3 separate regions of the Homo sapiens genome follow, and all the other regions are reported to be linked to region 3. Evidence: microRNA targets listed by miRTarBase, many of them from high-throughput screens and not tested one by one. Region 3 holds a microRNA gene; each other region holds the end of a gene's coding sequence.

Region 1 (4,000 bases), not on the chromosome of region 3:
TGCAAGGGAAGCGTGTGTGTGTGTTGCATACATATCCGTCCACCCATCTGTACATACATGTGTTTTGCCTGGAAAGCTTATCAAGTCCCATTGATAAGTGGGGAGGAAATAGCAACATGAACGGTAAAATCCAATTTGTGAAAAAACAAAATGGAATGTTCGTAAATCACATCCATTGCGTAAACGCATGAAGAATGGACAGCGTGCTGTTGAGGATCATGTCTGGGGAGAGGAGCGTTGAAGTTGAGCTTATGCTGTGCAGTCTGTTCTGAATGGTTTTTTATGATGACAATATAGTCATGTGTTGCTTATGTAAAGATGAGTAAAAATAAAAGGAAAACATTTATCTTAACAGATGCATGTTCCTGGTCATTCGGGATTTATAGGCAATGAAGAAGCTGACAGATTAGCCAGAGAAGGAGCTAAACAATCGGAAGACTGAGCCATGTGACTTTAGTCCTTGGGAGAACTTGAGCCAGCGGCTGTCTTGCTGCCTGTACTTACTGGTGTGGAAAATAGCCTGCAGGTAGGACCATTGCAGTGATGGGCAGATGCGTCTTTCACACGGAATCAGGCACAGTGGCCTTCTGTGACATGTGTTTATAAAAAATGGTTAAGTATATAATAAATTGAACATCTTTGAGATTGGAGAATTATGTGAGATTTCCACATTATGTTTACTGGGTTCAATACTGTCCTTGCTTGTTTTATTGCAGGCAAGCAAGGCAAATGGCCTAAAATGCTGTGGCTTATATTTTGATAAGAAATCAAAAAACCATTGGTTAAAAGATGCAACTCAGAAGTCTGGAAGTATTCTGAAAGCATCCATTTACCGTCCAGTTGACAGGTTTGAGTCTCCTGCTTGTATAGGTGACTTGTGCCCATGGGTACATTAAAGGAACATGCTGCCCAGGGCCTGGGCGGACAGCTCAGTGGGCAGGATGTGTGCTGGGTCTCAGCCCCATGTGCCTGCTTGCTGGGCAGTTAGTATAGGGCAAAGCCTGCCTGCGGCGACCCTGGCTGCTAGGCCATTCTCTAGGAACAGCTGCGACTCATAAAGACCAAGAAGCATAAATAAACTTTCAAAAATTTATTTGGCTCTTTCGTTAAAAACTGTGCAAATTAAAAAAAAAAAAAAAAAAGTAAGACACCGGCTGGGCACAGTGGCTCACTTCTGTAATCCTAGCACTTTGGGAGGCCAAGGCGGGCAGATCACTTGAGGTCAGGAGTTTGAGACCAGCTTGGCCAACATGACGAAACCCTGTCTCTACTAAAATTACAAAAATTATCCAGGTGTGGTGGCACGGGCTTGTAGTCCCAGCTACTTGGGAGGCTGAGGCACAAGAATCACTTGAACCCAGGCGGCAGAGGTTGCAGTGAGCCAAGATTGCACCACTGCACTCCATCCTGGGCAACAGAGTGAGACTCTGTCTCAAAAAAAAAAAAAAGTAGTAAAAGTTTGACATGATTATTTATTTAGTTTTAAACCTTTTTATTATAAAAACATACAGGAAGTGACACAAAACAAATGTATAGCTTATTGAATGATTATGATTGTAAGGTGAATAACCTTTGTGTCCACCACCTGGTGAAGAAATAGTACTTTGCCAGATACCCCAGGAGGCTCTCCCAAGTGCCCCTCCAGCCACAGCCCTCTTCTTCTCCCCCTCCTTGCCCCAACAAGTAATCCTGACTTTTACAGAAATGACTTTCTTGGTTTTTTGATGGCAGTTTAGTCTTGTCTGCTTTTTTTTGTTTATTTTTTTATCTACTTCAGTGTCCATTTGCAGTCCCGTCGGCCTCACTGTTTTCCCTGCCGTTTATCTGTTGAAGAGCCTGGGCTGTTTGTCCCATGGCTTCCCACAGTGTAGATTTTGCTGACCACGTGGTCATGGTGTAGTTCAGCATGGTCCTCTATGTTTCCTGCACATTGGCAGCTGGGTCCAGAGGCTTGATGAGCCTCAAATTTGATCCCTTTGGCAGGAGAACAGGCGGTTAGGAGCTTTCCTCAGGAAAGTACCATGTTGACGGCAGCTGATGCTCAGTGCCAAGATCCATTAATTATTTGGGGTTGCAAAATGGTGGTATTCTCATTCTGTCGTTTTGCTTGCCTTTATTAGCTGGAATGGTTTTCTAAGAAAGTGTTTTCTTTTTTATACTTATCTGGTTACCCAGTGGTACAGTTCATATAGGAAGGGCAGGATAAATGCTTGATTCTTTGCTCTTGTACACTAAGTTTTTAAGATAATGCATTAGTTGTCTGTCAAGGAAGGTGAGTGGTGAAGGGTTTTTACATATATACAAGAATTCATGGGCTGGGCATGGTGTCTTATGCCTGTAATCCCAGCACTTTGGGAGGCTGAGGCTGGAGGATCACATGAACCCAGGAGTTTGAGACTAGTCTGGGCAACATAGTGACACCCTGTCTCTACAGAAAATTAAAATAAAATCAGGTGGGTGTGGTAGTGCCTGCCTGTTGTCCCAGCTATTCTGGAGGCTGAGATGGGAGGATCGCTTGGGCCCAGGAGGTCGAGGATGCGTGAGCTGTGACCATGCCACCACATTCCAGCCTGGGCGACAGCAAGTCCTTGTCTTAAAAAAAAAAAAGAATTTGTGGAGTTAAGCATACTTGGTGGGTTTCAATCCGTTGTGATTTTTATCTTTATTTAGCTCAGACTAGCTTATTCGGTCAGTGAGAGGGAGCCTCTTCAGCTTGGCTCTTGCTTTCTTTTGATAAGTGTGCACATGTGTGCATACATGTGTGCACAGACCACACGCACAGTCATTGATAGCTCCCTGCAGCCTGGCATGTCAAGATGCTCTAGGCCCAATTTATAGAGCTTCTGCTCCAAACCTGTCTTAAAAGAAAAACTTTAGACAAGTTAGCAGTTTAATTGAGCAGAAAATAGTTTCTTCAGCTGGGTAGCACTCAGGACCAAAAGTGGTTCAGAACGTTCTCCTGTGCGTTGTGTGCAGGCTGTATTTATTTATAGCCACAGGAAGGGAAAGACACATGTACATGGCCAGACTGACTGCAGGTCAGCCTCCACCTCACATAGGCATGTTTTGGGAGCCTTCAGCATGTGATTGGTGAGACTCTGCTGCTTGTTACAGAAGTGTACTCTCAAGTCAGGTCCCAGTTTGCTTATACATTAAGTGAGGTTATAAGTCACTATGTACAGAGGCAGTTTTAGGCCAAACTTAATTCCGTTTAACACTTGGAATCCATTATTTTTCCCAGAGTCTCTGGTAGAGATGGTATTTCAGATCCAGTTTAGGATGCTCATTGCTATTGCGTTGGTCATTATTTCTAGATTTTTGGACGGAGCTTTAAAAAAATACAAACATTGCACACACATATTTAAAGGAAGAATATTTTCTGAGCCTATATTGATATTCCCAATACAAATTCAGGGTCCTGGGGCCTTTACATAGCCTCCTCTATATGATGTCTGTGTCTCCTGCACTCGGAATCCTGCTTCTCAAGACACAGGACAATGGCATGGAATATCCATCCCTTAATCACTCACTTGTTTTATTCCTCTTTAGCATTTAGCATTTAAAAAAAATACTAATACCATAGCATTAATTGTGATGATGAAAACAGCACTGTGTCTACGTTGTCAGAAAAATTGCTCCTTTTTACCACCATTGACTCATTTCTGTGTGTTCAGGTCTCATAACCAGTCTATAGTCAGTGTCATCTTGGGGACAGTATTCCTTGAGTTTCTGATGTTGAATTCAGTTTTGCTGGATACGAAATTCTTGGCCCAGATTTTCTTTGAGTATCTTGTTTTATTCTGTTTTCTTCCAGCATAAAGTGATGCATGAAAAGCCTGATGAATCTTGTTTTCTTCCCCTGACAGTCATATGCTGTTTTTCCTTAGATGCCCAAAGGATTTTTTCCTTTTTCTGTCAAGTCGGCCGTTTTATTCGAATGTGTCATGTGTTGGTATTGGTTGTCCTGGTCCATATTTGCAAGCGTATGGTGTGCTCTTTC
Region 2 (4,000 bases), not on the chromosome of region 3:
GAAAAATGGGCATTTAGCAATGCAGAGTAAGAGCGCTCTAAAGGACAGAAAAAGATGTAAATGGGGAAGATTTATATCAAGGCATTAAATTTTGGTTTTAAAATGAATATAAGCTGAGACAAATAGGTACCAAGAAACTTCACCAGTTGGAAGGTTAATCTGTAGTGAAAAGTCTGTATCATACAATACTTTTAAAGAACATTTTTATTACTTTCAAGTTTATACAGTAATCTGGCACAAGCTATTGCCAGCATTCCTGCCAAGTACAAATGCTTGGACCTCCCCTTAATCAACAGATAAAATACATAACTTACATTTAAGGGGAGTGGATACCTCAAAGTGCTTAAGTAAAAATTTGTTCTCTTTAATAGTTTGAACTGTCCCTTGTTAGTCGTGTCTAAAACATTGACCTGAATAATGAGAAATCACAAGCTAATGTTTTACTTATTCCTTATATGGTAAGAGACTACCTTTTAAAGCACCATTTTCCATTTGGCATTTCACCAAGGTCTAATGTCCCTGGAATTAGTTTTTTTGTTTTGCCTTTTGAATATCGATAGGTGTTCATCTGAATTAAACTACGTTTAGTTTGATGGCTTCCTGCCTCCAAATTGGCAACAGTGTACCTCACTTTGTATGGGAGCTATCAGGATCTCCATAGGTTGCAAAGTAGATGACCATTACCTTGGGGTTGGGGCAAATCAGTGAACAAGTCTCGGCAAGGTACTGGCATTTGTATTTTTAAAAAAATCTCTAGCCATTTTGTTCTTGGTGTAAAAGTAGAATGGCTGAAGTATGGCAGCTGAGTAATAACTGTTCTTCTTAGCATGATGTAGTGCTTAGCATGTCTCTATGGGTCCAACTTTGAACATTATTAAGAACTGGTTTGTCTTGTTTTGCTATAACTGATATGAAAAATGGTTTGGGTGGGGCATGGTGGCTCACACTCTTACAGAGGCAGAGGCAGGAGGATAGCTTGAGCCCAGGATTTCGAGACCTGCCCAGGCAATATAACACCATTTGCCAAAAAAAAAAAAAAAAAAAGAAAAAAGTGGTTTGAATATTCATATTTCTTCCTGGCCATTACTGATTTTCAATTAATTTATGCATAAATGAGACCCAAACTATCACTAATTTTCAGCTATATGAATTGATAGCCACTTGACATCAGTGAAAGGTACAGTAGGGAGTAGATGAAATTGTATTTTTAATGAAAAGGCTTTGATGGGAGATTCAAGATTTTTGGTTTTTTTTTTTTTTTTTGAGACAGGGTCTTGCCCTGTCACCCAGGCTCGAGTGCACTGGAGTGATCACAGCTCACTGGCCTCAAGTGATCCTCCTGCCTTGGCCCCTTAAGTGCCAGGGTTACAGGCATGAGCTACCATGCCTGGCAGAAATTCAAGATTTGGATAAACTTACTTCTTTGCCAAGCCTGTTCTTCAAGTTATTCAGAACTGGGTGTATACCTTGTCCTCATATGTATCTTGTCCCTGCTGTCTTTTAGGTTAGCAAGGTGTATGAATACTTTTAAGTTTTGTTTGTTCTTTTCCTCGTGGTATCAGTGAAATACTGATCTATTCTCTGGCTAGGGTCAATTTACAAAATTGCCATGGAACTGAGCAAAAGGCCCACGTGGGATAAAAATCACTCACCATCGACGCCACCAGTATTTTTCAAGTTATGGCTTTTGAAGTATAACAAATTTCAGTAAACAAAATCAAAAGAAAAAATTCCTCTGCGTACAACAAAGAAGCACCTGTTATATTTTGAATGCATTCTTCATGTTGCCAGCTTTCTAAACTTGTTTTTTTGATGCCTCAACAGACAGAAGTGAAAATTATATGCCACTCTTAAGTACATCCAGGTTCTCCTCTACATATTCCCAATATGGAATGCTGGCTAGCAATCATGGCACTCTCTCAGAAACCAGCCACTGGAAGTTAAAACTTCTGGATTTCAAAAGCTAGTACAGGCTGCTAAATTTAACAAAGGAACAAACCTTCATAAATGGTACAAACTACCTGCCCAACACACTCTTCTATTTTCCAGACCCTTTAATATTGAGTAGTCTAGTCTTGGATTGACTATGGTGGGTTAGGTCTAATCTAAGTATCTTAATAGCTATCTAGGGATAATGAATAAAATTAAATACAACTGGTACCTCAAGTATCATAAGAGAATAAATTTATGAAGACAAGCAGACCAAAGCAACTCAAGATTTTCTACACCTGACTACTGTAGCTGTAACTTCAAATAATGTGTTACCTATGAAACTTATTATGTACGAATTAGTTCTTAAAGACAGAAATGATGGAAACATGTAAAAAAAAAAAAACAACAGTAAGTGTTCAAACAGATCCCTGTTTTGTTATAAAGAACTGGAGCTCTAGGTGGCATCTAGTGGATATTTTAATAGCAATAAAAATAAAAAATTGGGTGATATTCCAACTAAATAAAAAATGCAGCTGCTTTTTAAAATTTAAAAACATACTTTACCACCCTGAATTATAAACTCAAGGCAAGTAGCTTATTATTCCAATAAGGACGTGGTGTGATAAATTCTCTCACACAGGTTGTCATCAATCTCAAATAGATAAAAGGCACAGAACCGATCTAATTCTTTCAATGCATTTTAAGGCTTTGTCCCGCTAAGGGTCAACTTTCACTGTGGTTAAAGTTAAATTTATTTTCTCTAAAACTCTTCTTTTGAAAGGATCTGTTATAGAGATCCTTTATTCACCTGCTCCTACAGTTCCACATCAAGACTAAAATAAAGATAAAAGAATTAGGGTCTTAGTATTAAAATGCTTTTAACTGGTGACAAGAAGGAAGAAGCCTATAGTTAAATATCCCAGAAATTTATTTGATGTTTGCTTGAATACATTTTATATAGAAAGATTGGGATTGTTTGCCTTGGATGCCCCTGGCAAATCTCGTGAGGCATTGAACTAGAAAGGGGTGCCAATCTGGAGACATCAGAAATGGAAATCACAAGCCCAATTTTAGAACTATTCTTAAAGATTTGTCTCTAGTGAAATGAGGCCACTCCCTTAAAAATGCTCAAAGTGTTGGAGCTACTGTGTGACAACAGCTGACATTTAGGAGGGCATTTCATGTTCTGATCTGTTAGAACATTTAAATACTTAGAAATAAAAAATATTCAGCTTTGAAGTTTTCAATACTGGAAAACTTTCAAGTCTAGGATTTACAGCCAGGAAGCGCTGCTCTGTGTTCCTTAAATTGGACTCTGTTTCCCACAAAGTTAATCTTCAGCTTTGGCTTCCATTTCTTCTGCATCATCATCTCCATCCACTTCGGCATTTTCTCTTTCAAGCCTCTCCATCTGCCTCGCAAGTTCAGTCTCATCTGTATCTGTGACCACTTTGGGCTGTGGAAGCAGAGGTATAATTTCAAACTGAAGTAGTAAATACTATACAAATTTAATTTCAATACTATTACTGCCTAATGTTTTCTCTCTTTAACACTTTTCTAACAACTCTGTCATATCTGTTCACTTTTGAGTGACTTATCAGCAATAAATTCCATTACATAAATAAGAGGTGAAACTTATGAGAATAGTATAGAAAAAGGATGTATGTATTAAAATGGAAAATTATTTTCTGTCATTTTTATAAGCTAAAACTGAAAACATGAAATAACCCCAATGGCTGTATCTTTCAAGACCACAAATAGATATCCTGTTAAAAAAACCTGTCTTCCAGGCTCAAACTACTACTTACTAGCTTACTAGTCCTTTCCATAGAAGGAACCATAACACACACACACACACACACGCACGCACGCACGTACACACACTTCTTTCTTGTTGGACAAGGAAAAGACAGGAGACAACTTTTTTTTTCTCCAATTCTGAGATCAAATTTTAGACATGCCACATGCAAATTCAAACCATAAAAAAACTTCTCATTTATATTGTTTATTCCCTTCCCCCTGGCTGGGGACGGGGGGTGACCCTAACACCATTAGTGATCAAAGGCCT
Region 3 (4,467 bases):
CTGACTTCATGTGAGCCGCCCGCCTCAGCCACCCAAAGTGGTGGGATTACAGGCATAAGCCACTGCGCCCGGCCAACAATGTATATTTTTCAACATGGGAGATTCAGTTTTGAATGCTCCCATCGGGACTGTGTGTCCCTGTGCTGGAACTCAAGTGAACGCTTGGCTCAAAATCCATTGCTGTTCTCTAGAAATCCAGCCCAATTCTCTTGGTTAAATGTAAGGTATGTGTAGTAGGCAATGCTTTTTCTGGAGACAGAACTCAGGAGGATTGTCCCTCGATGATCTAGGCTAACCTGCTGAGACTTTGAAGCAAGGAACTGGAGATGGTCCTTTTAGGGTTTTATGTTCTGGATTCCAGAAAACATGCAAACAGGGCCAATAAATGCATCCTCATTTTTGTGTCCATTTTAACCTGGTGAAGGAAAATTCCAACAAAAAACCCACAGTGCTGGAGCAAGAAGAGCTCAGGCTGTGACCCTCTAGAGGGAAGCACTTTCTGTTGCTTGAAAGAAGAGAAAGCGCTTCCTTTTAGAGGATTACTCTTTGAGAAAAACAACATTGAAGTTAATGCTGATCTTGGAGATCATGCTTATAATCAGACTTGGATGATGTTGGGGTTTTGTGGGGTTTTTTTGGTTTTTTTTCCTAAGACAGGGTGTCTGTTGCCCAGGCTGGAGTATGGTGGCCCCTCCAACCTAGATCTCTTGGGTTCAAGTGGCCCTCTTTTTTGGGACAGAGTCTTGCTCTGTGACCCTGGCTGGAGCTCAGTATCAGGAACTTTGCTCACTGCAACCTCTGCCTCCCAGGTTCAAATGATTCTCCTGCCTCAGCCTCCCGAGCAGCTGGGATTACAGGCATATGCCACCACGCCCAGCTAATTTTTGTATTATTGTTATGTATTTATTTTTTAACTTATTCATTTTAGAGACAGAGTCTCACTCTGTCGCCCAGGCTGGAGTGCAGTGGTGCGATCTCGGCTCACTGCAACCTCCAACTCCCAGCTCAGCCTCCTGAATAGCTGTCTGCAGGCATACACCACCACACCTGGCTAACTTTTGGTTTTTTTGTACAGATGTGGTTTCCCCATGTTGCCCAGGTTGGTCTCGAACTCCTTAGCTCAGGTGATCTTCCACCTTGGCCTCCTAAAGTGCTAGGATTAGTGGTGTGAGCTGTTGTGCCCCACCTATACTCGTCTGTTTCTGCTCAGATTTTATTGAGGAGCGTTTACAGGGTAGCCTGTTGTCTACCCTGCAGGATGTTTGTGCCTACAACAGTGTATATTCTTCAACATCTTAGATTCCATTTCGGATGCCCCCATGAGGACTGTGCGCTCCTGTACTGGAACTCAAGCGACCACTTGGCTCAAAATCCATTGCTATTCTCTAGAAATCCAGCCCAATTCTCTTGGTTAAAGATAAGGTATGTGTAGTAGGCATTGCCTTTTCTCTTTGGGAACAAAACTCAGGAGGATTGCCCGTTGATGAACAAGGCTAACCTGCTGATTCTTTGAAGCAAAGAACTGCAGATGGTCCTTTTAGGGATTTATGCTCTGGATTCCAGAAAACATGCAAACAGGGCAAATAAATGCATCTTTATTTTTGCGTCCATTTTAACCTGGTCAAGGAAGATTCCCACAAAAAATCCACAGTGCCAGAGCAAGAAGATCTCAGGCTGTCGTCCTCTAGAGGGAAGCACTTTCTGTTGTCTGAAAGAAAAGAAAGTGCTTCCTTTTAGAGGGTTACCGTTTGAGAAAAGCAACATTGAAGTTGATGCTGATCTTGGTAATACATTTTCAGAGCATGCTTATCATCAGAGATGGATGATGGTGGGCTTCTGTTTTTGTTTTGATTTTTTCTTTTTTTTTTTTTTGAGATGGAGTTTCGTTCTTGCTGCCCAAGCACTAGTATGTAGGAATTATTCTTTATGTGAGCATATAGTACATGGAACTTTGTTTTTTTGAGACAGGGTCTCCAAAATATATACATGTTATCATATAATCTTCTATGTATAATTATATTCACACAAAATAGTCTTCTGCACACAGAGAATACTCTTATATCACTTTGGGGTTGTTTTTGTTTGTGTATTTTTTTTTTTTTTAATTTTTTTTGAGACACCATCTGGCTCTATTGCCCAGGCTGGAGTGCAGTGTTGTGACCTCAACTCACTGCAGCCTCTACCTCCCACCTCAGCCTCCTGAATTAGTGTCTACAGGCATGAACCACTACACCTGGCTATCTTTTGTATTTTTACAGATGAGGTTTTACTATGTTGGGCAGGCTAGTTTTGAACTCGAGCTCATGTAATTTTCCCGCCTTCGACTCCTAAAGTGCTGGGATTAGAGGTGTAAGCCACTGCACTCCACCCGTACTTCTGTACAAATGTTATTGAGGAGCTTTTACGGCCTAGGCAGTGCTCTATCCTGGAGAATGTTTGTGTGTAAGACAATGCATATTCTTTTTTTCTTTCCTGTCACCCAGGCTGGAGTGCATTGGCACGATCTCGTCTCACTGCAACCTCCGCCTCCCGGGTTCAAGCAATTCTCCTGCCTCAGCCTCCTGAGTAGCTGGGATTACAGGTGGGCACCACCACGCCTGGCAAATTTAGATTCCATTTTGGATGCTCCCATCATGACTGTGTGTCCCTGTGCTGGAACTCAAGTGACCATGTGACTCAATCCATTGCTGTTCTCTAGAAATCCACCTCAATTCTCTTGGTTAAAGGTAAGGTATGTGTAGTGGGCATTGCTTTTTCTCCTTGGAGACAAAACTTAGGAGGATTCCCCTTGATGAACAAGGCTAATCTGCTGAGCCTGGAGATTGTCCTTTTAGAGGTTTATGTTCTGGATTCCAGAAAACGGTCAAACAGCGAATAAATGCATCTTTATATTTGTGTCCATCTTAACCTGGTCAAGGAAAATTTCAACAAAAATCCCAGATGGCTGGAGCGAGAAGATCTCATGCTGTGACTCTCTGGAGGGAAGCACTTTCTGTTGTCTGAAAGAAAACAAAGCGCTTCTCTTTAGAGTGTTACGGTTTGAGAAAAGCAACGTTGAAGTTGATGCTGATCTTGGTAATACATTCGCAGAGCATGCTTATCAGGCTTGGATGACGGCAGGGTTCTGTTTTGGTTTTATTTTTTTCCAAGACCAGTCTCTGTTGCCCAGGCTGGAGAGGGAGGGGTTGCACTCCAAACTAGATCTCTTGGGGTCATGTCTTGCTCTATTATTATTATTAATTCTTATTTTTGTGTGTGTGTGAGACGGAGTCTCGCTCTGTCACCAGGTTGGAGTCCAGTGGCGGAATCTCAGCTCACTGCAACCTCCGACTCCGTGGTTCAAGCGATTCTCCTGCCTCAGCCTCCTGAGTAGCTGGGATTACAGGCACGCACCGCCATGCCGAGCTAATTTTTGTATTTTTAGTAGAGACCGGGTTTCACCACGTTGGCCAGGATGGTCTCAAACTCCTGACCTCATGATCCACCCGCCTCGGCCTCCCAAAGTGCTGGGATTACAGGTGTGAGCCTCCGTGCCCAGCCTGTTATTTTATTTTGTTTTATTTTATTTATTTTATTTTATTTTGAGATGGAGACTGGCTCTGTCGCCCAGGCTGGAATGCAGTGGCAGGATCTCCACTCACTGTAACTCCCACCTCTGTCGCCCAGGCTGGAGTGCAGTGGCAGGATCTCCACTCACCGTGGAGTTCCAGTGATTCTTTCACCTTAGCCTCGCAAATAGCTGGTATTACAAGCACCCACCAACACACCCTGCCAATTTTTGTATTTTTAGACAAGAAAGGGTTTCGCCATGTTGGCCAGGCTGGTCTCGACTCCTGACCTTAAGTGATCCACCTCCCTGGCCTCCCAAAGTGCTGGGATTACAGGCGTGAGCCACCACGTCCAGCCTCAAGTGGTCTTCTTGTCAGCCTCGCAAGTAGTTGGGCTCAGGTTTTAATTTTTGGTAGAGATGGGGTCTCTTTTGCCTGGGATGGTCTCAGCTGAGCTTAAGTGATCCTAAATGTGTGAGCCACCTTGTCCCATTTCAAAGATAGGTGACACGGCCAGGCATCCTGGGACACACAGGGTCCCAGTTACTGCAAAGGCTAGGGTGGGAGGGTCCTTTGATTTTAAGGCTATACCATGCACTGATCACACCTTTGAATAGCCACTGCACTCCGGCCTGGGCCACATAGCAAGATCCCATCTCTTTAAAAACGCAGATTACATGCCATCTGGTTCCTGAGGCTCCATTTGGGTTGGTCACTTCAAATACAGGCCTTTCATCAGTTTAGTTTAATCAATCCAAACCATGTTTCCTTCATTAGGAGAGTAAGGGCCAGGTGTGTAATCCAAGCACTTTGGGAGACTGAAGCAGGCGGATCAGGAGGTCAGGAGTTCGAGACCAGCCTGACCAATATGGTGAAACCCCGTCTCTACTAAAAATACAAAGATTAAGTGGGCGTGGTG

What was found. Region 3 holds the annotated microRNA hsa-miR-520f-3p (AAGUGCUUCCUUUUAGAGGGUU, at 1,722-1,743, shown strand). A microRNA usually pairs through its seed, bases 2 to 8, with sites in the 3' UTR of a target mRNA and lowers its output. Matches are read on the target gene's strand: a 7mer-m8 pairs with bases 2 to 8, a 7mer-A1 pairs with bases 2 to 7 and ends in A, and an 8mer does both.
Region 1: the mRNA of RNASEH1 is a reported target of hsa-miR-520f-3p. The part of its 3' UTR that is shown has no 7-base or 8-base seed match.
Region 2: miRTarBase lists EIF2S1 as a target of hsa-miR-520f-3p. Seed matches in the 3' UTR shown: 8mer at 834-841 and 7mer-m8 at 339-345.

The regions. Positions count from the first base shown.
Region 1 is chr2:3,542,227-3,546,226 of GRCh38, reverse strand. RNASEH1 (ribonuclease H1) reads left to right here. Exons shown (of 8, transcript NM_002936.6): 8 at 356-4,000. The coding sequence ends at 442. Among named protein-coding and RNA genes, the nearest start is that of RNASEH1, 14 kb to the left of the region's middle.
Region 2 is chr14:67,382,703-67,386,702 of GRCh38, reverse strand. EIF2S1 (eukaryotic translation initiation factor 2 subunit alpha) reads right to left here. Exons shown (of 8, transcript NM_004094.5): 8 at 187-3,388. The coding sequence ends at 3,263. It also overlaps a transcript of GPHN not described here. Among named protein-coding and RNA genes, the nearest start is that of EIF2S1, 24 kb to the right of the region's middle.
Region 3 is chr19:53,705,786-53,710,252 of GRCh38, forward strand. MIR520C (microRNA 520c) reads left to right here and starts at 1,668; the gene lies at 1,668-1,754. It overlaps MIR526A1 (microRNA 526a-1), which reads left to right and starts at 467; the gene lies at 467-551. It overlaps MIR518C (microRNA 518c), which reads left to right and starts at 2,950; the gene lies at 2,950-3,050. LOC107985346 (a long non-coding RNA gene) reads left to right here. Exons shown (of 5, transcript XR_001753998.1): 4 at 1,300-1,422; 5 at 2,484-2,524.